Linked DNA regions of Homo sapiens: regions 1 and 3 are each linked to region 2. Evidence: fine-mapped expression QTL. A gene starts in region 2. Each other region holds a variant in brackets. All regions are shown on one strand. Distances are between the middles of the regions.

Region 1 (8,175 bases), 32 kb before region 2:
GCATTACCTAATGTCTCAACTGTTAACAGCAGAGCCTGACCAGTCACTGCATGATTGAGCAGAAAGAAGACACAGCACAGTCTGCAGCAGCAAGGCTCACCTGCTACTGGGCTTCTAATCTTTGTTCTGGCGTGGCCGTCTGCTTCATGCCTTGGGGCAGAATTGGTCTTGGTAACTGAGAGCTGCACCGGGGGTGGGTGATACTTAAACCTGTGGTTAAGATAATAAAATGCCAGAGGCCAGGCGTGGTGGCCCACACCTGTAATCCCAGCACTTTGGGAGGCTGAGGTGGGAGGATCATTTGAGGTCAGGAATTCAAGACCAGCCTGGCCAACATGGTGAAACCCTGTCTCTACTAAAAATACAAAAATTAGGCGGGCATAGTGGTGGGTGCCTCTAATCCCAGTTACTCGAGAGGCTGAGGCAGGAGAATTGCTTGAGCCTGGGAGGCAGAGGTTGCAGTGAGCTGAGATTGCGCCACTGCACTCCAGCGTGGGTGACAGAGCAAGACTCCGTCTCAAAAAAGAATGCCAGAATACCTAATTAGAGCTGTAAGATCAACCACCTCACACTAAAGACAAAGTTCAAGAGAGGTTGTGATTTACCCCAGGTCAAACATGAGCAGTGTGGCCTGGCATACTGTTCCTTTTAACACCGATGTTTTAGCACATTGAGTGCACAAAACTTAGTGCTAAATAAATTCTGAGGAACAAGTGAAGTAATAACTCCTAGCAAACAATGAGAAGTGCTGATAACCTTGTTAACGCCAACAAGCAACTCACTACGAAGTCCAGTCTGATTTTTTTTTTTTTTTTTTTTTGAGACAGAGTCTCGCTCTGTCTCCCAGGCTGGGGTGCAGTGTCACCATCTCAGCTCACTGCAACCTCCGCCTCCCGGGTTCAACCGATTCTCCTGCCTCAGCAATCTGATTTTCTTATAGAGAAGACTATATTCAACAAATTTTGAGTACTTAATACCAAAAAAAACCTTGTTTCTGATAGCTAGATGACTGTTTTCTCAGGCCAGTTTGCTATAGGATCTGAACTTTTTTGAAAACCATATGCTGGTATATTACAGGAATAATTGCAGCTATGAGCTGTACTGTCTAGTCCAGTATTAGTATCTTTGCCTAGTGTGGAAACTTCCAAGTGTTTTATATAGAATAAACGGAAATCATTCTACATAACAGGGCCTGGAATAATCAGTCACATTTACCCACATAGTTTCACGTTGTCCCATGTTTTTTTTACCTACTCTACCAATTATTTTTGCCCTCCAGAAGTAAATGAGGCAGAGATTTGAAGGGCATCACTTTATTCCAAAGTTGATCATTAGTGAGGGGGATTTTTACAGTCTTCTTTCCCTCCTCCCTCAGCTGCCTCCTGGTTAGAGATGCTAACAAGAATTACGATGGTCCTAAGATACTGGAGGAAGTAAAAAAGTTGAAGGCCCTACATATTTTAGTTCACGTTTGGCATTTCTTGGTCTTTACCCTATGTAAGGCAAGGAGAAAAAGACATGAAATTTAAATTACAGATAAACACAAGTGTATTAGTCCATTTTCACACTGCTATCAAGAATTGCCCAAGACTGGATAATTTATAAAGGAAAGAGGTTTAATTGACTCACTGTTCCACATGGCTGGGGAGGCCTCAGGAAACTTACAATCATGGCAGACAGTGAAGAGGAACCAAGGCATCTTCACAAGGTGGCAGGAAGGAGAATGAACACAGGAGGAACTATCAAACTTATAAAATCATCAGATCTCGTGAGAACTATCACAAGAACAGCATGGGGGAACCGCCCCCAAGATCCAATTACCTCCACCTGATCTCTCCCTTGATGTGGGGATTATAGGGATTACAATTCAAGATGATATTTTAGGTGGGGGCACAGCTAAACCATATCCTACAAGGAATGACTGAAACTAAAGATACTAATTTCCTTTCCCTTGGTTGGCCAGGCTGTCGTCTTCATTACTGACTAATAGAGACCAAGCAGGTTGGTTTAATCCCATTGCCCTCTAGTGCTTTCCAATGTTGGCCAAAATGTTGCCTCCATTTTAAACATTCCTCCTGGGGAAGAATGTCTTTCTATCATACGATAAGGGAGAAGAGAAGAGGAAGCAAGAGAAAAGTTTAAAGTGTTGTACAGAAGTTTCCAACCACAGGAGGAGCAAAACACCAAAGAAGTTGTAGAATACAGGGTGTGGTGAAGAGTTGGAGCCCAGGCCGTGCTGTCTGAGAAGGCATGCCAAGCCAAGGTTCAGGCTTCCTAGGACCATGTCCTGCCCGGAGAAGCATTCCAGTCCTTCTCATCATGGAGAAATGGCCAAGCCCCATGTGGTTACAGGGAAGCCACGTACACCACACCATCTTTGCAGAAGGTTTCCAGGGAAGAGACAGACCAACTGAATGACCTCCAGCCCATCCTTGGCCAGAGCCCCAGGCCGAGGAGAGCTGGGCGAGTCCATGATGTCTGATCAGATTGGGGCTGGGGTTCAGGTCTTAAACATCAGGAAGCCCCCAAATGCAGTGCCCGACAGGCTTCTCTTTGTTATTGATCCCTGGGTTAACTCAAACCATACTCGCTCACCCTTCTGCAGCTCAGCCATGGCAAAGACCGTTGCTGTGCTTCCACTCCCCTGCCCAGTGGTACAGACTGGAGTCCGATGGTGACCTCCAAACACCAGCTGCCCGGTGCCTGGCCCTGGGCCAAATTCAACGCTCACTGCAAACAGGTAGACACCACGCTCAGGGGCTCGGAAGTAGCCATGTTCAGGGAAGTAGCTGCTGCCAATGTTGATGTATGTGGTGTTGAACTTCACTGTCTGCAGGGCAGCCGTCCCTTCTGAAAAGCTGGCATAGAAGGCCACAGGGGATCCTGAAACATAACAGGACAGTGCTTAGTGATTCATCCCTTACACCATTGGGTGGGAAATTAAACCCTGAGACCTACCGTCCTCACCTTATTAGCAATGGAAATAGGTCACTATTTCTAGATAACCTAGATATTCCCAACAGCAGTGTTATTGCAGGAGAAAAGCTAGATGGCCAATTCTGTTTTTCACTAATAGAGAGGAAGGAAAATGCAAGTCTGTTGTCTGAGCTGGTGTACATTTTAACAAAATACTTTCATTTTTTTTTTAGACAGGGACTCACTCTGTCTCCCAGGCTGGAGTGCAGCAGTGGTCATGACTCACTGCAGCCCTTTTTTTTTTTTAACGTAGAGATGGAGTCTTACTATGTTGCCCAGGCTGATCTGGAGCTCCTGGGCTCAAGTGATCCTCCAGCCTCAGCTTCCCAAAATGTTGGGCTTGCAGGTGAGCCACCATGCCCAGCCACAAAGCACTTTCTCGTTTGATCCCTTTTCCTTCCAACTTCCTTGAGAGACAGTATCCCTGATTGACAAAACAGGTTGAATCCTTCACCGGCTGCCCAAGGCTACATGGTTTGTAAATGGCAGGCTGGGACAGGAACACGGGTCTCTGACTCCCAGACGACCACCACTTGCTAGGAATCTTGAGATACTCAGGGGAGAGGGAGAAAATATCCATCCTCAAGGTAATAATAATGCTAACACTGGGAAGGTATCTGCAGAGCCATGAAGGCTGGATCCTCCTGGATGTTGAAGACAGAACCTTGGAGAAAGAAGGAAAGAGCAGGTGGAGCCAGGGAAGAGAAGCCCCTTCAAGCTG[GTCT/G]TCTTTTTTTTAGTTGATAAAGGGTCTCTTGTTGCCCAGACTGGAGTGCATTGGCGATCATGGCTCACTGCAGCCTCAACTTCCTGGGCTCAAGCAATCCTCCCACCTCAGCCACCTGAGTAGCTGGGTCTACAGGCATACGCCATCATGCCTGGCTAATTTTTTATTTTTTGTAGAGACAGAGTCTTGCTCTGTTGCCCAGGCTGGTCTCAAACTCCTGAGCTCAAGCGGTCCTCCCACCTCAACCCCGCAAAGTGCTGGGATTACAGGTGTGAGCCACTGTTACTGGCCAAGCTGGTCATCTTACATATGGGTAAATTGAGGCCCAGAAAGAAAAAGCTTATTGCTCCAGACCACACAACTAGTAAATTACCAAGCCTCCTGGGAACAGACCTTGAATCTCTAGACTTCTGGTTCTCTGCAGGGACCACTTTGGCCAGCCTTAGGACAGGAACACTGACAGAACACTGGTGCCAGGCCCATGCACGGGCACAGAAGCAGAGGAAGCTGCCATGTGTGGAGGGTGTACAAACAGCCAGGAAGAAGCCAGTCCTGCTGCCTGGACAGCATGGTTGGGCAGCTGGGGACAGGGTCATGAGATGGCACAGGAAAGGTAAGTCCTACTTGGGTCCTGGCTGTGACACTGGCCTTGGCACCAACGAGGTCATGTCCACCATGGGGTTCCTCAACTTGCTCCCTCTGTAGGGGTTTAAAACAAGGTCCCCATTTCTTAGGTGATAAAACCAAAGCCTTCAGAGGAGCAGTTTGCTGAGCAATTACTGACTTGGGTCCCGGAACTCAAGCCTCAGCTCTTTGACTCCCAATCCAGCAAGCCTTTGTGAATAAAAAAATGTTGCTTTTCTCTAGTTCTGGAAGATTTTCTGAGAATTAGACAGCTGAGAATAGCTTTCTCATTTGTGTTCAGATTGTGTCAAATCAGCCGGGCGCAGTGGCTCACGCCTGTAATCCCAGCACTTTGGGAGGCCAAGGCGGGCGGATCACCTGAAGTCGGGAATTCGAGACCAGCGTGACCAACATGGAGAAATCCCATCTCTACTAAAAATACAAAATTAGCCAGGCGTGGTGGGGCATACCTGTAATCCCAGCTACTTGGGAGGCTGAGGCATGAGAATCGCTTGCACCCGGGAGGCGGAGGTTGCCGTGAGCCGAGATCACGCCGTTGCACTCCAGCCTGGGCAACGAGAGTGAAACTCCGTCAAAAAAAAAAAAAAAAAAAAATGCCGGGCGCAATGGCTCACGCCTGTAATCCCAGCACTTTGGAAGGCCGAGGTGGGCGGATCACGAGGTCAGGAGATAGAGACCAGCCTGGCCAACATGGTGAAATCCCGTCTCTACTAAAACTACAAAAATTAGCTGGGCATGGTGGCAGGCGCCTGTAATCCTAGCTACTCGGGAGGCTGAGGCAGGAGAATCGTTTGAACCCGGAAGGCGGAGGTTGCAGTGAGCCGAGATCGTGCCATTGCACTCCACCCTGAGCGAAAGGGCGAGACTCCGTCTCAAAAAAAAAAAAAAAAAAAAAAAAAAAAAAAAGATTGTGCCCAAGTCAGAGGCCGGCGGCTGCCTCTGCAATTCCCCTAACACCCTGCAGGTGGTTCTCTTGCCTAGCCGAAGGAAGGCCGGCCCGCAGCGCCCTCTACCGGTGCTAGGCCCTCGTTCCGGCCGTTCCGTCCGGGCGCCTGCGCAGGGAGTTCCGCCGCAGAGAGAGACCCCCACCCCAACCCAGCCTTGCGCCTGACAGGCCCTAAGATGCGGGAAGGGCTGTGCAAACTCAGAGTGTGCTTCCCTGCAGGGCACACATTCAAGCCCTACAGCCTTCCTACAAACAAATAAAGGGAAATTTGGGGTGTGTGTGTGTGTGTGTGTGTGTGTGTGTGTTTGTGTGTGTGTGTGTGTGTGTGTGTGTTTGAGACAGAGTCCTACTCTGCCGCCCAGGCTGGAGTGCAATGGAGCTATCTTGGCTCACAGCAACCTCTGCCTCCCAGGTTCAAGCGATTCTCCTGCCTCAGCCTTCCAGGTAGTTGGGATTACAGGTGCCTGCCACCACACCGGGCTAATTTTTTTTTTTTTTTTGACAGTTTCGCTCTTCTTGCCCAGGCTGGAGTGCAGTGGCGCAATCTCGGCTCACTGCAGCCTCTGCCTCCCGGGTTCAAGTGATTCTCCTGTCTCAGCCTCCCGAGTAGCTGGGATTAGGCGCCCGCCACCACACCCGGCTAATTTTGTATTTTTAGTAGAGATGGGGTTTCACCATGTTGGCCAGGCTGGTCTTGAACTCCTGACCTCAAGTGATCCACCCGCCTCGGCCTCCCAAACTGCTGGGATTATAGGCATGAGCCACTGCGCCCGGCCTGGAAATTTGTTTTTAAGAACAACATTTTTTTGAAATAAATATCGTCGTGGTAAACACATTTCCAAACCGTGGGGCAAATTCTGAAAGTCATCAGCATATTGAAGCCTTGCACCACGCACGAGAGGAAACAAGAGAGAAGTGTCAGTGTCGGTGGACACAACCTGAACCCTGAAAATGCTGGGGAAATGGGAAAACGTTGACTGCGTTCCTACATGAGGTAAGCCTCGTGCTAGGTATTTGGTAAACGCAGCAGTCTTCATAACAAAACTTTGACATGGGTAGGGATTCTGCCATTTTACTGAGGAAGAAACAGACAAGTGATGCCAGAGCCTGGGTGCTTCCCACTGCTCCACATTGCCTCTTGGGCCATAGGGAGGGTCAGCTGGGGCAGGGGCTGCCTGGGACGGGACCTTCAACAAGGCCTTGGACTTGCCACACGCCAGGCTGCACATGGCCAAGATGGTGGCCTTGTACTTAGCCCTGTGTCTGGGTGGGGAGAGGCCACAGCTCCAAGGCCAGCCTCTGGCAGAGAGAGTCACTTGAGACACAGAGCCTAGTTGTCCCCCTCCCGGGACCACACTCAGGGAGGGGATGGGAAGCTTGGTTGCACATGCCTTCAGCCTCAAAGCCAGCTCCCAGGCCCAGGGCCCTGCAGGGACCAGCCATGGAGGGCCTTCTGGAGGTGAAGAACCGGCACCCTAAAGACAGCGCTCCTCTGCTGCTCACTAGCTGTGCAAGCAGGAAACTTGTGTTTGCGCCTCAGTTTCAGGTAAGATGGAAGTGCTGATGAGTGTGTCATTGACCTGTTGGGATGGGCCATTGTGGTAAAGCCCAGGAAGGGGACTAGCACAGAGCGATGAGACAGGTTAACTGTATTTGCAGAGGGAATGAGCTCCTTTCAGGGCCCACGGCTTTCCCTGTACAGTCCACTGAGGTGTGTTCCAAGACCTTAGCAGGTGCCTGAAATCTCAGACAGTACCAAACCCTATATATACTATTTATTTTCCTCTATGTACATACCTATGCCAAAGTTTAACTTGTAAATTAGGCACAGTAAGAGATTGACAATAATAATAAAATATAAAGCAATTATAACAGTATACTGTAATAAAAGTTATATGAATGTGGTGTCTCCCTCTCTCAAAATCTTATTGTACTGTACTCACCTATTTTCTGATCGTGGTTGATGCAAGAAACTGAAATCAAGGCTGGGCACATGGCTCACACCTGTAATCCTAACACTTTAGGAGGCTGAGGTGGGCAGATTACTTGATCCCAGGAATTTGAGACCAGCCTGGGCACCATAGCAAGACCCTGTCTCTACAAAAAGTACAAAAATTAGCTAGGCATGGTGACACATGCCTGTAAGTCCTAGCTACTCTGGAGGCTGAAGTGGGAGGATCAGCTGAGCCTGGAGAGGTCTAGGCTGCAGTGAGCCATGATCCCACCACTGTACTCAAGCCTGGACGACAAAGTGAGACCCATCTTAAAAAAAAAAAAAAAAAGAAAAGAAAAAGAAAAAAAAAACAAAAAAAAAACTAAAATCATGGAAAATGAAACAGAACTAAGTGGGGCTGCAAGTGGCCACAGTCCCTATCCACATTCTTCCTAGATACAGTGGCTTAAACGCACATGGGAATGAAGGGGGTGAGGTGAAGAGATGAGATGGGGGGACTTGAAGGCTGCCCTGGCAGGGCAGGAGGCGATGCCCTCTCTGTAGCAGGAGCAGTAGGCGGCACTATTGTGCCTGTGGCCTCCAGGCTATGCCGCTCACGGGCTCTGGCACTAGCAGGTGGTTCTTGTGACTTCTGTCTCCCCATAAGCCAGGTAGCTTGAGAGACCCACACCCCTGAGAAGCAGGTGGGCCAAGGGGAAGGTGGACCTAGTAGGGGTGACGGATGGCCATCCTGTTCTCTTTCTTCCTGGCCCTCTTGGAGGCAGAAGAGCTGCCGGCAGCCGGCCCTGGCCTCCTAGGCTCGTCCAGTCTCCCCAGCCCAGGAACTCACCTGCCTCCCAGAGCGCCGCGCCCAAGGCACCTGGCACAGGCCCTGTGACCCGTATGTCCACCAAAGGCTCCGCTTCCTTCTTGTCCCTCTTCCGGGGAGCT
Region 2 (8,175 bases):
CTGCCTCTCCTTGTCTGAGAAGCCCTGGTGCCCTGCACGCTCTCACAAGGTCCACTGCTGAGTCCTGGGCACCCTTCAGCCAATTTAATCTTCACACACACACTTTGGGGAGACGCTGTGATGTGATGGGGATGTTGAGGCTCAGAGAAGTGAGGGGCTTGCTCTAAGAATATCTGAACCCAAGAGGTTTGACTGTAGTGCCTGCCGCTAGGGCCACGTGGAGCTCTCTCTACCACCATCTGCTGGGGGCTGGCTGTCTCTTCCCACAGAGGCTGCTCCCTTCCTGTCCAGCTCACAGCTCATTGCCCATGGGGCCTGGAGCCCAGTGGCACCACCAGCCTGTGATAAACTGGAACACTCGAAGGCCTGCCTGGCTATTGGGCACTACCGGTGGGATTTCAGGAGGGCTGGCAGGGCTGTGGCCAGCCAGGCAGGGCATGGCTGAGATGGGCTCCCCAGAGTCCCCAAGGCATCCATATGGCCGCTCCCAGGGCAAGGCCTCGCTCTGGGAGAGGAGGGGCGGGGGGCTGGGAGGACTGTTGCTGCCGCTTTGTTTTGCCTGAGACCTGCTCCCTCCCCCTTCCTCCACCTAATCTCATCACCTGCCTCTTCCCTTTGCCCAGGGTTGACCTCATCTCCATTAATCCATACCGTGTGTGTGTGTGTGTGTGTGTGTGTGTGTGTGTGTGTGTGTGTGTGTGTACAGGTGCACTTCCAAACAACTCCCTCTAGGGGCTGACCCCGCAGCACTAGAAGCAGGGTATGTGCCAGCAGACCAAGCCTGTGTGGCAGGGGCTTCCCAGCGCTCCAGAATAGGGGAGACACCAGCAGAGGTGCAAGAAACAGCCCCGGACAGGAAGCGGTAGAGAGACCCAGAAAGGCAGGGTGGGTGTGCACTGGCCTCCAGGTCCTGAAGGCCTACTCTGGAGTGGGAGTATACCCAGCTGGGTGGGGCCTGACCTACACCCCTTGTGTGCCAGGGGAATGTATCTTGCAAGCTGTTTTGCTGCACCCAAGGATGATCTTCTCCACTCAGGCCCAGGTCCCTAAGTCCCCTCCTAACAGCCACAAGTCATACTCTCTAGCGCCTTGCCTGCCCCATCTCAGGAAAGGTGACCTGAGAGGCCCAAGCTTATTCCTGCCCTCCCTGAGCCATGCTTCCTGCCCAACTTCCTAAGGCTTCGGTGACAGACGGCAATCTCCTTGCCTGGGCTGCACAGGCACACTGCCCTCTCCCCCTTGGGGTTGCATGGTCTGCAAGTGCACACACCTGTATCTCGCCCTCTCAGGGGAAAGATTTACCAGGCCCTCTCCGGCTGCATCCACTGGGTCTCTGGCTACAGGCAGAGAGCCAGTCAGCAGTGCCCCTGCAGCTGTTTGGGGCTGGGGGCTCCGATGATGCCAGAGCCCTAGGGTTTACAGGCACCTAGGCAGATTCGAGGATCCAAGTCCCTGCCACATGCGTTTGGGTGAGACCGACCTCACTGCCTCAGTTTCCTCCTATACACTGATGCTATCAACAAAAATACCCACTTCAGGAGGTGGTTGTAAAGATTATACAAGAGACTGCAGAGCGTTAGGCAGCACCTGGCACAAGACAAATGCTCAGTAAAAGACCACTGCTGTCATTAAGGTCAACACCAGCCCTGAGCTCCTGCCCTGGAGCTGACCCAGCGCTCACGCCCAGGATCAGAAAGGGAGGGCTGGGGCTGATGAGCTGGGAGGTGGTGTGCGCCCTTCTCCTGCCTCCAGCTCCTCTCTGGACCCCTGTCCTGGCACCTCTTCGGTCCCTGGTTCGGTCTGCCCCTTTCCCACCGCGGCCCGTCTTAGGCCAGGATGTGCTCCCTGCCCTGCGGACTCTGGAGCAGGGCCCGGCCACTCCCCGGAGCCTGTATGACGGGAACCGCCCCGCGCCCTCTCCCCTACGCGGGGCAGGCCAGCCCTGGGGCGCCTTAAAAACCGGAGCTGGCGCTTGGCATCGCCACTCTGGGCAGGATCCAACGTCGCTCCAGCTGCTCTTGACGACTCCACAGATACCCCGAAGCCATGGCAAGCAAGGGCTTGCAGGACCTGAAGCAACAGGTGGAGGGGACCGCCCAGGAAGCCGGTGAGGATAGCGCGCGACCTAGGGCTCAGGCAGGGGCACCTGCGTGGATGCGCAGGCAGAAGCAGCGGGTCGGCGCGGTCCGCAAGTTCCTGGACCGGCAGCTTGGCTCGGAAGGCTCGGTCCTCCACTGAGACGCAGGGGGCAGGCAGAACGCCCACCCCGGCGAGCAGACAGATGGTGCCCGCAGGGAGGCAGCGGAACAGAGGCTCCGGAGGAGCCGGAGCTGCGCTGCGGGCACTGCGGGAGCCCCTCCAAGGAGGCCATGCTGGCGCTGGGCGGCCCGCCCAGGCCCTCAGGAGAGGGTGAAGGTCCAGGACAGGGATCGGGCGCGGCCCGCCACCACTTAAACCCGCGCGCGCCACCAGAGGCTGCCCCAGACCTCAAAGGGCTTTGTTTCCATCCCACCCCCATCGCCGAAAAGTAATCGTCGCCTTACCTTTAAGTCCCCACCTGGCAAAGAAGGTCCTTAGTTCCTCCACCTCCAGCTCTCTCCTCCGTATTCTGGAGGTGACCCAGCTGCGGTGGGGGCGTGGGAGATGTCAGGAGACCACTGGGTTGGTTCTTCCTGCACCTAGCCCAGGCTTCGTTAGGACTCCAGCTCCCTGTCAGTCCTGCCCATATCCCAGTCAGGAGACAATATCCAAACCAACCCCTTACTTCACCAGTGCTCCAGGGGAGGCCCACAGTTCTTCCCTTGAGACTGAAATGCTACCAAGGAAGCCTCCGTGTCAGGTCCCTTCCTTCTGGGCTTCACTTTTCCATCTGAGAGCTGGGTGCAAAGGATGGGCTGCTTTCTGATGGGTTAATCGAGACGAGGTTCCCAGGGGCCTCTCAGCACACTTGCCTGACTAACCCTTTCCGGAGGATGGGATCTGGGTAAGGCAGGCCCTTTCCTGTTCAGCAGCAGGGATGAGTTACAGCTCTGTAGGCGGGAGCCACCTGTCAGCCCCCCCGGGGCTGGTGACTCCATTCCCAGCAGGCCGAAACTCTGGTCCAGAGGAGATAGTCCGGCCTTGGAAGTTTTGCCTCCTTCCTTCATTTGTCTCCTAATGTCTTAAGCTGCCTGTCCACAGAGGCACTGGCTTTGCTTGTGTGCCCCTCCGGGCAGGCCACAGGAGGGAGGAGGCAGTAAGGACCTGGCAAAACTGCAAGCCCCAGGGCTAAGTGCATGAAAGGTGGGAATTCAGGCATCTGGGCCAGGCTTCTAGGGGAGAAGCTGTAAAAGGGGGCAAGGGTCTTCTGCGCCATCACCAGCATTAGCCAACAGTCCAGATGCTAGCTGCAGCCTGGCCCTGCCCTGCCTTCCTTCCTCTGTCCAACATTTTCTCAGTAGCCCTGGAGATGGAAAGGGAAGCTCCTCCCCCACAGAGAAGGAGCTCAGAGTTAGAAATAAACAAAAACATCCCAGAGGCATGGAAAGGTCTCCTGCCCCTCGGGCTGGGGGGCCCTGGGCCAGGGACTTTATCTCCATGGCATCCATCCCTTGGACCTGTACCACCGAATACTCTGGAGGACACAGAGGCATGGCAATGGTGGGGCACCTGTAGTCGGTGGTGCCTCAACAGGGGCTAAAAGCCACATCTCTCTGTTCCAGTGTCAGCGGCCGGAGCGGCAGCTCAGCAAGTGGTGGACCAGGCCACAGAGGCGGGGCAGAAAGGTCTGGTGGGGCTGGAGGGAGGCGGGCAACCCCAGCACACCTCCCACTCCCCGCCCCATCCCGGCTGGGGCCCAGGCACATCCTCTCCTCTGCAGAGCCCTCTGTCCACAATGCCCCAAGCAGGTCCCCCGGGAGACCCAGGCCAGGCTAAGCCTACAGGCACTGTGGTTCCCGGGCCCTGCCTGACCTGCCCTCTCTCCCGCCCTTCCCCAGCCATGGACCAGCTGGCCAAGACCACCCAGGAAACCATCGACAAGACTGCTAACCAGGCCTCTGACACCTTCTCTGGGATTGGGAAAAAATTCGGCCTCCTGAAATGACAGCAGGGAGACTTGGGTCGGCCTCCTGAAATGACAGCAGGGAGACTTGGGTGACCCCCCTTCCAGGCGCCATCTAGCACAGCCTGGCCCTGATCTCCGGGCAGCCACCACCTCCTCGGTCTGCCCCCTCATTAAAATTCACGTTCCCACCCTGTGTCCACTTCATGATTCCTCGCAAGCTGGGCCCAGTCCTCTCATCCCAAGAGCAGAGCCACCGTAGCCGGAGTCCTAGCCTCCCAAATTCGGAAATCCAATCCAACGGTCTCAGGAATGTTTTCCATCCCGCCACGCGCCTCCCGAAGCTCCCAGACCGGAGGCTCAGCCCCCATCTCGGTTAGTGCCCCTCTCCCGCCCGACTTTAGAGCCAGCCCCTGCCCCTTATTCCCTGCCCCAGGATCCCGGCCCCTCCTGGGAGCTGGGCTGGACTCGGTCCTCAGATCCTCGGAAGGCTCAGCTCTGGGCGGGGCAAGGGACCTTGCAAGTCGGGGGGGCCTCGGGAACTTCTCTCCGCCAGCTGCGACTGGAGGCTGGGAACAGGGGAGACGACCCAGGGCCACGGCCCCTCAGGACTTCAGGCGGCCGGAGGTTGTGGGGACGAAGCGGAGTCGGGAGCCGGGCTTCCGGCCCTCACTACCCCGTCTCGGCCCGCGGGTTGCCTGCGTGCCCGCCCCACCCAGCGGTGAGTCATGGGGCAGGGCCCGCGGGAAGCTTTGTTGAGTGGGGCGCTGCCGCCCGGCGGGGTCCCGCCCCGCCACTCCCCGGGGAGGGGCTTCGGGGCACGGGGCCGTGCACGTGAGAACGAAGCACGGTTGTGGGGGGGGCATGCACGTGCGCGCTCGCGTGCGGGAGACCCCTCCCTTCCACACCACTTCCTTTCGGGACAAACCGGTAACCTCCGGCCCTGGAAGGTTTTGTCTAGTGGGTTCCGGATGGACTGGTGTTCCCAGCACCCCCCCGGCACGTGTCCACGCGTGTGGCCCCGGTACGGTGTATGCCTTGCCAGTAGGTGACTCAACGTGGCACTGGTTGAGCGCCGGATGAGGCCTGGCCCTGGCGCGGGGCGTGGGCTGCTGCGGCCCTTTCCTCCCCGCGCCCCTCACGCCCCAGCGGGCCCCTAGCGGTTCCCGTCCACCCGCTCCATGTCTTTACCCCGGTACTACCTCCACCTGCAGTCGCCTCCTCCTGCGCGCCAGTGGCCTCTGCGTTTCTGTTGAAAGGTACCGACTACGCGGTGCTTCCCAGTTCTGAGGCGATTTAGTCAGCGGACTCAAGGCGCGCTCCCTGCCTTCCCCGGCCTCCCAGCAGGGGACGAAGTCCCCAACCTGGCTGCCAGTCCAGATGCTGCAGTACAGGTCTGCCTAGGAGGCCGTTCCCTTCTCCAGTCTGAGATCTCCCTCGCGGGGCACGTGTCTACCACCCTTAACCCAGGGCTGCCCTGGTTCCACTATCGGTTACATGTTGCTGACTGTCCCCAAAAGGTTTCTTTGTAGAATGTGGGAAAGTCCTTGAAGAGACACCCGGAGCAGTGTCAGGGGCGCTTCCAGGAGCCCCTGCCTCCAGGAGCAGGTCCTAGGGTCTGGAGAGCCGGCCTCAGGGCCACTCCAGGAGGCTGGTGGGGCTGGACTGGCAGAGCCCAGCATCCTTCTGGTGTGCATCATTCCCCTATGACTCAGGGATGAATCCCAAGGGACTTTTCACTTGTTCTCCTTGTGAGTGATCGCCTTAAGTGCGACCCAGGTGCGGCCAAGGAGAGAGATCAGGCCTGAGGCCAGGAGTCTTCTAGAAAAGGCTTTTCTTGTCTTGAAGGCGGGGCATGGTGGCTCAGCCTGTAATCCCAGCACTTTGGGAGGCTGAGGCGGGAGAATGACTTGAGACCGGGAGGTCGAGGACCGCTGCACTCAGTCTGGGCAACAGAGTGAGACCCTGTCTCAGAAAAAAAAAAAAAAGCCGCCCTTCATCTTCCTCTGGACACCTTGTGGCTGGAAAGGAACCCTAGAACCAGCCACTTGGAACCACAGGAGGAACAAGTCTGAGGAACAAGTCTAAGGAAAAGCCCACCTGCTGATGAGGGCAGAGCCTCCCAGACCTCCAGCCTGTTCCCACAACACCCCCTCCCTTCCATCTCAGCCACCTTGACCTTCCCATCATGCTCCTGCTGCCTCGGTATCTTCACACCTGCGGCATTTTCTGCCTGGCATACTCTCCATAAATCACCCTTGCCTATTGCTCTTCCAAACGTCAGGTCTCAGCGGCCTTGGGTGTGCCGACACACACACACACACACACACACACACACAATATGCATCAGGCCCCTGGTGACACATTCTCACACCCCCTGTACCTCCTTTTTAGAGTCACAATGAGCCTTCATGTGTGCTTCTCCATAGTGGTGGTTCATGGGGCTGTAACCAGTCCCTTTTTAGTGCATGCTCTGTGTCTTCTGCGGTGCTCAGGCAGCACTGGCTAAATGATTGCATGGAGGACCATCCTTTTGTTCTCCTGATGGATGACAGTGAGTTCTCATTTTCAGGTTTACCATGGAACCATCTCTGCAATGCAGCCCCTTCCACATTGCCCCAGCCCCATGGAGCTGGTGCTCCGGTGGCGCTGTGCAATTGCCTGTTCCTGTGTGCCTCTGCTCCCCCGACACTAGGAGCCCTGGAGGGCAGGGCCAGGTGGGACTTGCCTTTTGAACCATGTCTGGGACACAGAGGGCACAGAGCCAGTGTCTCTGTAATAGGTCCCTTGCCTGATGGCAGGGCAAGTCCATACACCCGAAACACCGGGTTGCAGCAGAAGAAAGAGGTTTAGTCGCAGGGCTGCCAGACAAGATGGGAGAAAACCTCAAATCTCTCTCCGAGAAGTTTGGGGTTAGGGTTCTTAAGAGTTTTAGAGCAGGCCAAAGTGTGGAGATTGTTGATTTGTTGAAGAGTGCGGAGTGAAGTCATGGGGCCAGGGAGATGAAAAAACTGTATTCTCATGCTGATTATGTTCTTCTGGGCTGTTCAAACTGGTTGGGGTCACTTGTTTCACTGGAATTTGGAATCTGAAAAACATTTTAGGCTGGATGCGGTGGCTCATTCCTGTTTTCCCAGTACTCTGAAGGCCAAGGTGGGCGGATCATCTGACGTTAGGAGTTCGAGACCAGCCTGGCCACATAGTGAAACCCTGTCTCTACTAAAAATACAAAAATTAGTCGGGTTTGGTGGCGTGCGCCTGTAATCCCAGTTACTTGGGAGGCTGAGGCAGGAGAATTGCTTGAACCTGGGAGGTGGAGGTTGCTGAGCCAAGATGGTGCCGCTGCACTCCAGCCTGGGCGACAGAGTGAGACTCTGTCTCGGAAAAAAAAAAACTGAAAAAACAAACGAAAAAAACGTTTTAAGGAATTCCTAAACAAAAGCCTATGATTCTAACATCAGAAAGCCGAACTGTGGGAACAGTGGGGATGCAGATGGTCAGTATACAGTGCCACGGGAAGTTCTATAGAAGGAATTTAGTTAAAGCACAGCCTCATTAATGCTTAATTATAACTGTTAATTTTTAATTATAACTGTTAATGCTTAATTATAACTATATTTCTGTGTAGAATGCTTGTTAACCCTGTGAGGACAGCTTCACCAGAGGAGCCCTTGGGAGCTTATACTGCCCAGGCCTGTCTCCACCAGGTTCATGGAGCAAGTACAGCCCAGACTGGCTGAGGAGGAAGGATTGTGGCCACACTACACCTATTGGGTGTCAGTCAGTCCTCCAGAGATCAATTCTTCCATTAGCAATGCCACACATAATTCCTAATTCTCCAAATTCCAGTTCCCCATCTAGCCAAACACACAGTCACTAACATTACATTGTGGTTCCACTTACAAATGACTGCATTTTCAGGTGGAGGTGTTCCCTTAAACCATTTTCTCTGGATGGCGTTCCTTCCTCCCTCTTCTTCTTCATCCCCATTTTCAGTCCGTAGGATGAGCTTCTTTGTATGTAATCTCCCAAACGTCTACCGCTGGAGTTCTCAGCTTTGACCCCCATCAGACTACACATGAGGCAGGGTGCAGATTCTTCCACTTTCACCTCCTCTCCCCTTCTCTCCCTCC
Region 3 (8,175 bases), 38 kb after region 2:
AGGCTGGGCACGGTGGCTCATGCCTGTAATCCCAGCACTTTGGGAGGCTGAGGCGGGTGGATCACAAGGTCAGGAGATCGAGACCATCCTGGCTAACACGGCGAAACCCCGTCTCTACTAAAAATACAAAAACTTAGCTGGGCGTGGTGACACGCACCTGTAGTCCCACCTATTCTGGAGGCTGAGTTAGGAGAACCACTTGAACTTGGGAGGCGGAGGTTGCAGAGAGCTGAGATCGTGCCATTGCACTGCAGCCTGGGTGACAGAGCAAGACTCTGTCTAAACAAACAAACAAAAAAAGCAATAAGCTGGTGGGGCGCAGTGGTTCACACCTGTAATCCCAGCATTTTGGGAGGCTGAGGTGGGTGGATCACTTGAGGTCAGGAGTTTGAGACCAGCCCGACCAACATGGTAAAACCAGCCTCTACTGAAAGTACAAAAAATGGCTGGGCATGGTGGTGCACGCCTGTAGTCCCAGTTACTTGGGAGGCTGAGGCAGGAGAATCGCTTGAGCCTGGGAGGTGGAGGTTGCAGTGAGCCGAGATCTCGCCATTGCACCGCAGCCTGGGTGACAGAGAGAGACTGTGTCTCAAAAAAAGAAAAAAAGAAGCAATAAGATGACCTAACCTCATGCAAATATGTAGTTGGTAGAAGGTGTATTTTTAAAGTTTTCAGACAGTTGTGGGTATTTGTTAACACTAAATCAAAACTTCACAAGTGGTGGTTTCTTAAATTAGTTACGGTGGCATTTTACATATTAATAAATTTATTCCATCAGTACTCATTGATCTTTCTTGCACAGTAAATGGATCTTTTGCTCCATACTTGCATTTATAATATCATGCATTAGTTACTTGGAATATATTGGTTTATGTTTTATTGTGTCAAAAATCACTTTTAGTTTAACCACCAATCTTAGTTTAACACGCCTTTAAGTATTGAAAAGCTGCCAAGCCTACAGTAGAAGGAAGAAGTTTTTCAAAGTCCACAGGAAAGCTTAAATTTTATCATTGGGAACAAATACGTATTTCCCTTGAAGTGACAACCTCTCACTTCATTTATTTTTGAGAATGATAGTTGAACTGGTTTTTTAGACCAAGTTTCACTCTGTCACTTGGCTGGAGTGCATTGGCATGATCTCAGCTCAAGCAATCCTCTCACCTCAGGCTCCTGTGTAGCTGGGACCACCGGTGTGTGGCACCACACCAGGCTAATTTTCTTATATGTTTGATAGAGACAGGGTTTCGTTATGTTGCCTAGGCTGGTCTCGAACTCCTGAAGGAGCTCAAGCCATCTGCCTGCTTTGGCCTCTCAAAGTGCTGGGATTTTACAGGCATGAGCCACTGCACTGGCCCAGTTGTACTTTTAAATAAAAATGATGTTCTGTGAAAAAAGTGATTTTTCAGTTCACAGTTAAATCATGGATTCTTTAAAAACAAAAAAAAAAGCGCTTCTCGTTAACTTTCCACTTATTCAGAATATTAGAGACATGTCAAGATTTAACAACATTAATTTTTACTGCTTCATCAAAGACATTCTTAAGAAATTCAGGCTATGTTTTTTACCTGTAGGGGACAGTGAAGAATAGAAAGACTACTAATGTAATTGGTACCACTGCCTTGATTTATGCTGAGAAACCAGCCATTGTACCCACTTTTGCTTTTATACAATCATGGCAAGTGTCAATAAAAAAGCAGGCAATGACTTTGTATTACTTTCACAAATTTTTAAAATTTTTCATCAGCTTTCTCAGGTTTAATTAGTATGATTCAGAACAGTGTTGGCCAGGCACAGTGGCTCAGGCCTGTAATCCCAGCACTTTGGGAGGCCGAGGCAAGCGGATCACCTGAGGTTAGGAGTTCAAGACCAGCCTGGCCAACATGGTGAAACCACATCTCTACTAAAAATACAAAAATTAGCCAGGAGTGGTGGCAGGTGCCTGTAATCCCTGCTACTTGGGAGGCTGGGGTAGGAGAATCACTTGAACCTGGGAGGTGAAGGTTGCTGTGAGCCAAGATCACACCATTGCACTCCAGTCTGGGCAACAAGAATAAAACTTGTTTTTTTTTTTTAAAAAAAAGAACAGTTATGAGCTCTTAGGCCTTCTGGAAGGGGTCTTCAGGATCCTGAGAGGTCCACAGAGCACATTTGGAGAACCACTGGTTTATACACAGACACAATGCATTAGTTTTACAAAGTTTAAAGTTCATCAAAGACTGGCCTCTTAAAAAGGCAGATGAGTTTGTCATTCAAACAACAGAAAATACATAAATACATCATGAGAGTATACTACAGAGAACTAAAGAGAAAGGAAGCTAGGAAATCTGAATCACATTTACATTTATTAAAGTTTACTACTACTGCTTTGTAGAACATTCTTGTGTTTCAATGTGTGGTTAGAAGAGTGAAAATATATTTGGCTTATTGCCATGGCCTGTTAGGGAGAGTCAATACTCATGGGCATTTCTGACTGGTTATCATATAAAAGACTTCACGGTACAGGCCATGATGTGCTGAGAAAGAAGAAGTCAGGAAACCCTCTGCAAGTCAGGATCCAGGAGAAGAATTCGTAAAAACTGCTTTGGTAAAGTAAACACCAAAGCACACAGGAGGCAGTATTTTACTAAACAAATATTATACTAAGATATTAACAGTTTTTGAAGTAATGCGCTTTCTTATTTTTTAGAGATGCAGATAGATCTTTGACCATACTTGATGAACAGTTATACTCATTTGCGGTAAGTGGCACTTTTATTGAGGTTGTATTTTCATCGTACACTTGTATCTGTTTCATGCTGAAGTCAAAGCCATCTTTTTTTAAATCTTCCCCATTTCATGTTGCATTTAGTCATCTTAAGTGTTGTAAAAAGAATGTGCTGGAGTAAGAACTGATCTGCGGCTCTGTTTAGTTAGTGAGCTAGTATGAGTAAATATACTATCCAAACAACAGAAAATGTATCTTTTTTTTTTTTTTTTTTTTGATGGACTCTCTTTCTGTAGCCCAGGCTGGAGTGCAATCGTGCGATCTTGGCTCACTGCAGGCTCTGCCTCCCAGGTCCCTGTTCAAGCAATTCTCCTGCCTCAGCCTCCCGAGTAACTGGAATTACAGGCATGTGCCACCATGCCCAGCTAATTTTTTTTTCTTTTTTCTTTCTTTTTTTTTTTTTTTAGTAAAGACAGGGTTTCACCATGTTGGCCAGGATGGTCTTGAACTCCTGACCTCGTGATCCACCCACCTTGGCCTCCCAAAGTGCTGGGATTACAGGTGTGAGCCACCATGCCTGGCCCAGAAAATGTATCTTTTTAAAAGGTAATTGTGAGCTGTCTATAGGACCCTGCAAGCCACTACCCAATTTTTGAAGCCATTCTTCTTCTGTTCCACACAGTTTTCCACCGTGCACATTACGAAGAAAAGAAATGGAGGTGGGAGTTTAAATAACTATTCCTCCTCCATTCCATTGACTCCCAGCACCAGCCAGGAGGACCTTTATTTCAGTGTTCCTCCCACTGCCAACACACCCACGCCCATTTGCAAGCAGTCCATGGGCTGGTCCAACCTGTTTACATCTGAGAAAGGGAGTGACCCAGACAAAGGGAGGAAAGCCCTGGAGAGTCACGCTGACACCATCGGGAGCGGCAGAGCCATCCCCATTAAACAGGGCATGCTCTTAAAGCGAAGTGGGAAATGGCTGAAGAC[A/G]TGGAAAAAGAAATATGTCACCCTGTGTTCCAATGGCGTGCTCACCTATTATTCAAGCTTAGGTGATTATATGAAGAATATTCATAAAAAAGAGATTGACCTTCGGACATCTACCATCAAAGTCCCAGGAAAGTGGCCATCCCTAGCCACATCGGCCTGCGCACCCATCTCCAGCTCTAAAAGCAATGGCCTATCCAAGGACATGGAAGCTCTGCATATGTCAGCCAATTCAGACATCGGGCTGGGTGACTCCATATGCTTCAGCCCCAGTATCTCCAGCACCACCAGCCCCAAGCTCAACCTGCCCCCCTCCCCTCATGCCAATAAAAAGAAACACCTAAAGAAGAAAAGCACCAACAACTTAAAAGATGATGGCCTGTCCAGCACTGCTGAGGAAGAAGAAGAAAAGTTTATGATTGTGTCCGTCACTGGCCAAACGTGCCACTTTAAAGCCACGACGTATGAGGAGCGGGATGCCTGGGTCCAAGCCATCCAGAGCCAGATCCTGGCCAGCCTGCAGTCATGCGAGAGCAGTAAAAGCAAGTCCCAGCTGACCAGCCAGAGTGAGGCCATGGCCCTGCAGTCGATCCAAAACATGCGTGGGAACTCCCACTGCGTGGACTGTGAGACCCAGAATCCTAAGTGGGCCAGTTTGAACTTGGGAGTCCTCATGTGTATTGAATGTTCAGGAATCCACCGCAGTCTTGGCACCCGCCTTTCCCGTGTGCGATCTCTGGAGCTGGATGACTGGCCAGTTGAGCTCAGGAAGGTTATGTCATCTATTGGCAATGACCTAGCCAACAGCATCTGGGAAGGGAGCAGCCAGGGGCAGACGAAACCCTCAATAGAGTCAACGAGGGAAGAGAAGGAACGGTGGATCCGTTCCAAATATGAGCATAAGCTCTTTCTGGCCCCACTACCCTGCACTGAGCTGTCCCTGGGCCAGCACCTGCTGCGGGCCACCGCTGATGAGGACCTGCGGACAGCCATCCTGCTGCTGGCACATGGCTCCCGTGAGGAGGTGAACGAGACCTGTGGGGAGGGAGACGGCTGCACGGCGCTCCATCTGGCCTGCCGCAAGGGGAATGTGGTCCTGGCGCAGCTCCTGATCTGGTACGGGGTGGACGTCATGGCCCGAGATGCCCACGGGAACACAGCGCTGACCTACGCCCGGCAGGCCTCCAGCCAGGAGTGCATCAACGTGCTTCTGCAGTACGGCTGCCCCGACGAGTGCGTGTAGTATCTGTTTTATTTGACTGCAGTCTCCTTGGTGTAAAAACAAAATGGGAAAAATAAGGATAACTCAGAATTTCAAAAGGAAATCACAAATTCAGCTAATAATAGCATTTTCAGTACTTTTCGTAAACTAAGTAAATACACAAAATGTTGATTTTTCTGACCATAAGACATATTTTATGTCCTTTTGCCGAGGTGGGTGTGTTAGTCTCAGGCCCTCCTGGCCACATTGCCCAAGTCACACAGGCTTCTGTATTATGTATTTAGATAAGATGTGTGAAAATATATTTGAAAAAAAGTTCATAAATATGCATTGATTTTTGTACATATGGCACCTCTTTTTCATTTTTATTTTTATTTTTTTTGGACGATGTTTTGCTCTGTCGCCCCAGCTGGAGTGCAGTGGCATGATATCTGCTCACTGCAAGCTCTGCCTCCCAGATTCACACCATTCTCCTGCCTCAGCCTCTCAGGTAGCTGGGACTACAGGTGCCTGCCACCACACCTGGCTAATTGTTTTGTATTTTTAGTAGAGACGTGGTTTCACCATGTTAGCCAGGATGGTCTCGAACTCCTGACCTCGTGATCCACCTGCCTCAGCCTCCCAAAGTGCTGGGATTACAGGCGTGAGCCACCGTGCCCGGCCCATGGCACCTCTCTTAATTTATAAATTGAACTGGATGTGAACTAATAATGTCAGCTAGTTGAGATAAGAGGGTTACAGATCTGGGCGCAGTGGCTCACACCTGTAATCCTAGCACTTTGGGAGGCCTAGGCGGACTGATCACCAGGTCAGGAGATCGAGACCATCCTGGCTAACATCATGAAACCCCATCTCTACTAAAAAATACAAAAAATTAGCTGGGCATGGCCGGGCGTGGTGGCTCACACCTGTAATCCCAGCACATTGGGAGGCCGAGGCAGGCAGATCACGAGGTCAGGAGATCAAGACCATCCTGGCTAACATGGTGAAACCCCGTCTCTACTAAAAATACAAAAAAAAAAAATTAGCCAGGTGTGGTGGCAGGCACCTATAGTCCCAGCTATTCGGGAGGCTGAGGCAGGAGAATGGCGTGAACCCAGGAGGCGGAGCTTGCAATGAGCTGAGATTGCAGCACTGCACTCCAGCCTGGGCGATCAAGCGAGACTCCATCTCAAAAAAAAAAAAAAAATTAGCTGGGCATGGTGGCAGGCACCTGTAGTCCCAGCTACTTGGGAGGCTGAGGCAGGAGAATGGCATGAACTCAGGAGGCAAAGCTTGCAGTGAGCAGAGATTGTGCCACTGCACTCCAGCCTGGGCAACAGAGCGAGACTCGGTCTCAAAAAAAAAAGAAAAGAAAAGGAGGGTTACAGATCATTGCACATGGAAAATATTTCCAGCAGTAAACACTCCCATTAATGTGATCTACAGCTTTTAAAAAGGAGCATCTCAGAATAAGATGGTGGTACAATTTGCTTATTGAGAAAGGAAAAAAAAAAACACACGAGTATATTACAAGGGGAAAAGAAGGAATGTGATTTCTCATGATTGAAAGCTTGATTTAGATTGCATACAGCTTTTGCTACCCAAGACCAAGCAGCTCTGGCAAGACAGGGTGGTTTTCCAAATGCCAGACCGAGGTGCCTTATGAAGGCAGCTGCCGATGGTTCCAGATGTAGAGAGATAGGTGATGCAGGAGGGAAAGCTGGATTGGAAAAGGGAGAGTTTTGTAGACGGGCTACACTCATTGTGGCTTTGAAAGAGCAGAGCCGGCAGCCTCTAGTCATCATTTGGATATACAGGACTAGAGCATGAATCTGATGTAGAGCTACAGAATGAAGAGCAACAGCAGCTGTTTAAATACCGAGAAAGTGTGTAGAATGAAATTGGACAAGCCAAGCATGGTGGTTTCATGCCTTTAGTCCTAGCTACTTCGGAGGCTGAGGTGGGGGAATTGCTTGAGCTCAGCAGTTTGAGTCCAGCCTGGGCCAGATGGTGAGACCCTGTATCTTAAGAAAAGAAAAAATAAGACCAGGTACAGTATCTCATGCCTGTAATCCCAGCACTTTGGGAGGCCAAGTTGAGAGGACTGCTTGAGTGTAGGAGTTCAAGACCAGACTGGGCAATAAAGCGAGACCCATTTCTACCAAAAAAAAAATCAAGAAATTAGCTGGACATGGTGGCACATGCCTGTGGCCCCAGTTACGTGGCATGGCAGGCTGAGGCAGGAAGATCACTTGAGCCCAGGAGGTGGAGGCTGCAGTGACCCATATTCATGCCACTGCACTCCAGCCTGGGCAACAGAGTGAGACCCTCTCTCAAAAACAGATAAAGTGGACAGAAAATAGGTCGGTAAGGACTAATCATTTAAGGCACAAGTCCCCAGAAGAGTGGCTACTAGAGTGGGAGGAGGAAAAGCAGAAGGAGAAAGAGTTGAAGATAGGCGAGGCTGTGGTCCCAGTGCTGAATTCTGCCAAGCAGTGACTTGATTCATGAACACTCACTGGATGCTGACCCTGTTGCTCTTCTGAGTGCTGGGGTAGAGGGGAGGAGAGGTGGAGCACAGTTCTTGCTTTTATGAGCTTATGTTCTAGGAAGTTCAAGTATTTTTTCAGGTAGTATGAAATAGCAGGAAGAGGAAGCAGGCTAAAGGGACACAGAGTGATTGGGGGCTATTTTAAGTAGAATGATAAGGAAGAGCCTGTCTAGAGAGCTATTTGAACAGTGACCTGACTGAAGGGACAACAGAAAGCAGTGCTGACATTACAGGTAGCAGGATGACTGCCAAGACAGAAACGCATTTCATATGTGTTTGAGGAACAAGCAGCAAGGTGACCAGCATGGGGAGAGTGGAGAATGAGGGAAACCTTGAATGAGAATAAAGCAATTCCATCTTGGAGGCTAATCTGCCATATTCTGATTAATCCCAGTTCCAAGAATTCATCTACGATTTCTATTTTATCTTTTTAAAAAATTATTTTTTATTTTTTATTTTTTGAGACTGAGTCTCACTCTGTCTCCCAGGTTGGACTGCAGTGGCACAATCTCAGCTCACTGCAAACTTCACCTCCTGGGTTCAAGCGATTCTCCTGCCTCAGCTTCCCGAGTAACTGGGATTACAGGCGCCTGCCACCACGCCTGGCTAATTTTTGTATTTTTAGTAGAGACGAGGTTTTACCGTGTTGGCCAGGCTGGTCTGGAACTCCTGACCTCAGGTGATCCGCCCACCTTGGCCTCCCAAAGAGCTGGGATTGCAGGCGTG

Direction of the effects. Alleles are on the strand shown, and positions count from the first base shown. SD is a standard deviation of normalised expression in the study named. Not every link is listed here.
In carriers of allele A in region 3, the expression in skeletal muscle of the gene that starts at base 4,742 in region 2 tends to be higher than with G alone (small effect, 0.21 SD a copy in GTEx).

Evidence for each region. PIP is the estimated chance that this variant, and not a neighbour inherited with it, causes the effect.
Region 1: its variant is fine-mapped to the expression of ADIRF-AS1 in whole blood (TOPMed, PIP 0.94).
Region 3: its variant is fine-mapped to the expression of ADIRF-AS1 in skeletal muscle (GTEx, PIP 0.99).

The regions. Positions count from the first base shown.
Region 1 is chr10:86,934,243-86,942,417 of GRCh38, forward strand. MMRN2 (multimerin 2) reads right to left here. Exons shown (of 7, transcript NM_024756.3): 6 at 8,075-8,175; 7 at 1,298-2,883. The coding sequence ends at 2,501. Among named protein-coding and RNA genes, the nearest start is that of MMRN2, 19 kb to the right of the region's middle. RefSeq lists enhancers at 5,210-5,504, 5,648-5,697, 6,127-6,627. The variant GTCT/G (reference allele first, on the strand shown) is at 3,698.
Region 2 is chr10:86,966,499-86,974,673 of GRCh38, forward strand. It overlaps ADIRF-AS1 (ADIRF antisense RNA 1), which reads right to left and starts at 4,742. Exons shown (of 2, transcript NR_170185.1): 1 at 2,544-4,742. ADIRF (adipogenesis regulatory factor) reads left to right here and starts at 1,984. Exons shown (of 3, transcript NM_006829.3): 1 at 1,984-2,107; 2 at 3,702-3,764; 3 at 3,978-4,417. The coding sequence starts at 2,047. The coding sequence ends at 4,084. LOC124902474 reads left to right here and starts at 4,907. Exons shown (of 3, transcript XM_047426123.1): 1 at 4,907-5,066; 2 at 6,615-6,759; 3 at 7,671-8,175. The coding sequence starts at 4,907. The coding sequence ends at 7,782. It overlaps AGAP11 (ArfGAP with GTPase domain, ankyrin repeat and PH domain 11), which reads left to right and starts at 3,838. Exons shown (of 11, transcript NR_171046.1): 1 at 3,838-4,417. RefSeq lists enhancers at 1-670, 511-690, 671-1,423, 2,930-3,683, 3,684-4,435 and 1 more and silencers at 2,794-3,088, 4,670-5,219.
Region 3 is chr10:87,004,969-87,013,143 of GRCh38, forward strand. It overlaps AGAP11 (ArfGAP with GTPase domain, ankyrin repeat and PH domain 11), which reads left to right. Exons shown (of 11, transcript NR_171046.1): 10 at 2,687-2,738; 11 at 3,387-5,258. Among named protein-coding and RNA genes, the nearest start is that of FAM25A, 11 kb to the right of the region's middle. RefSeq lists a silencer at 7,330-7,530. The variant A/G (reference allele first, on the strand shown) is at 3,698.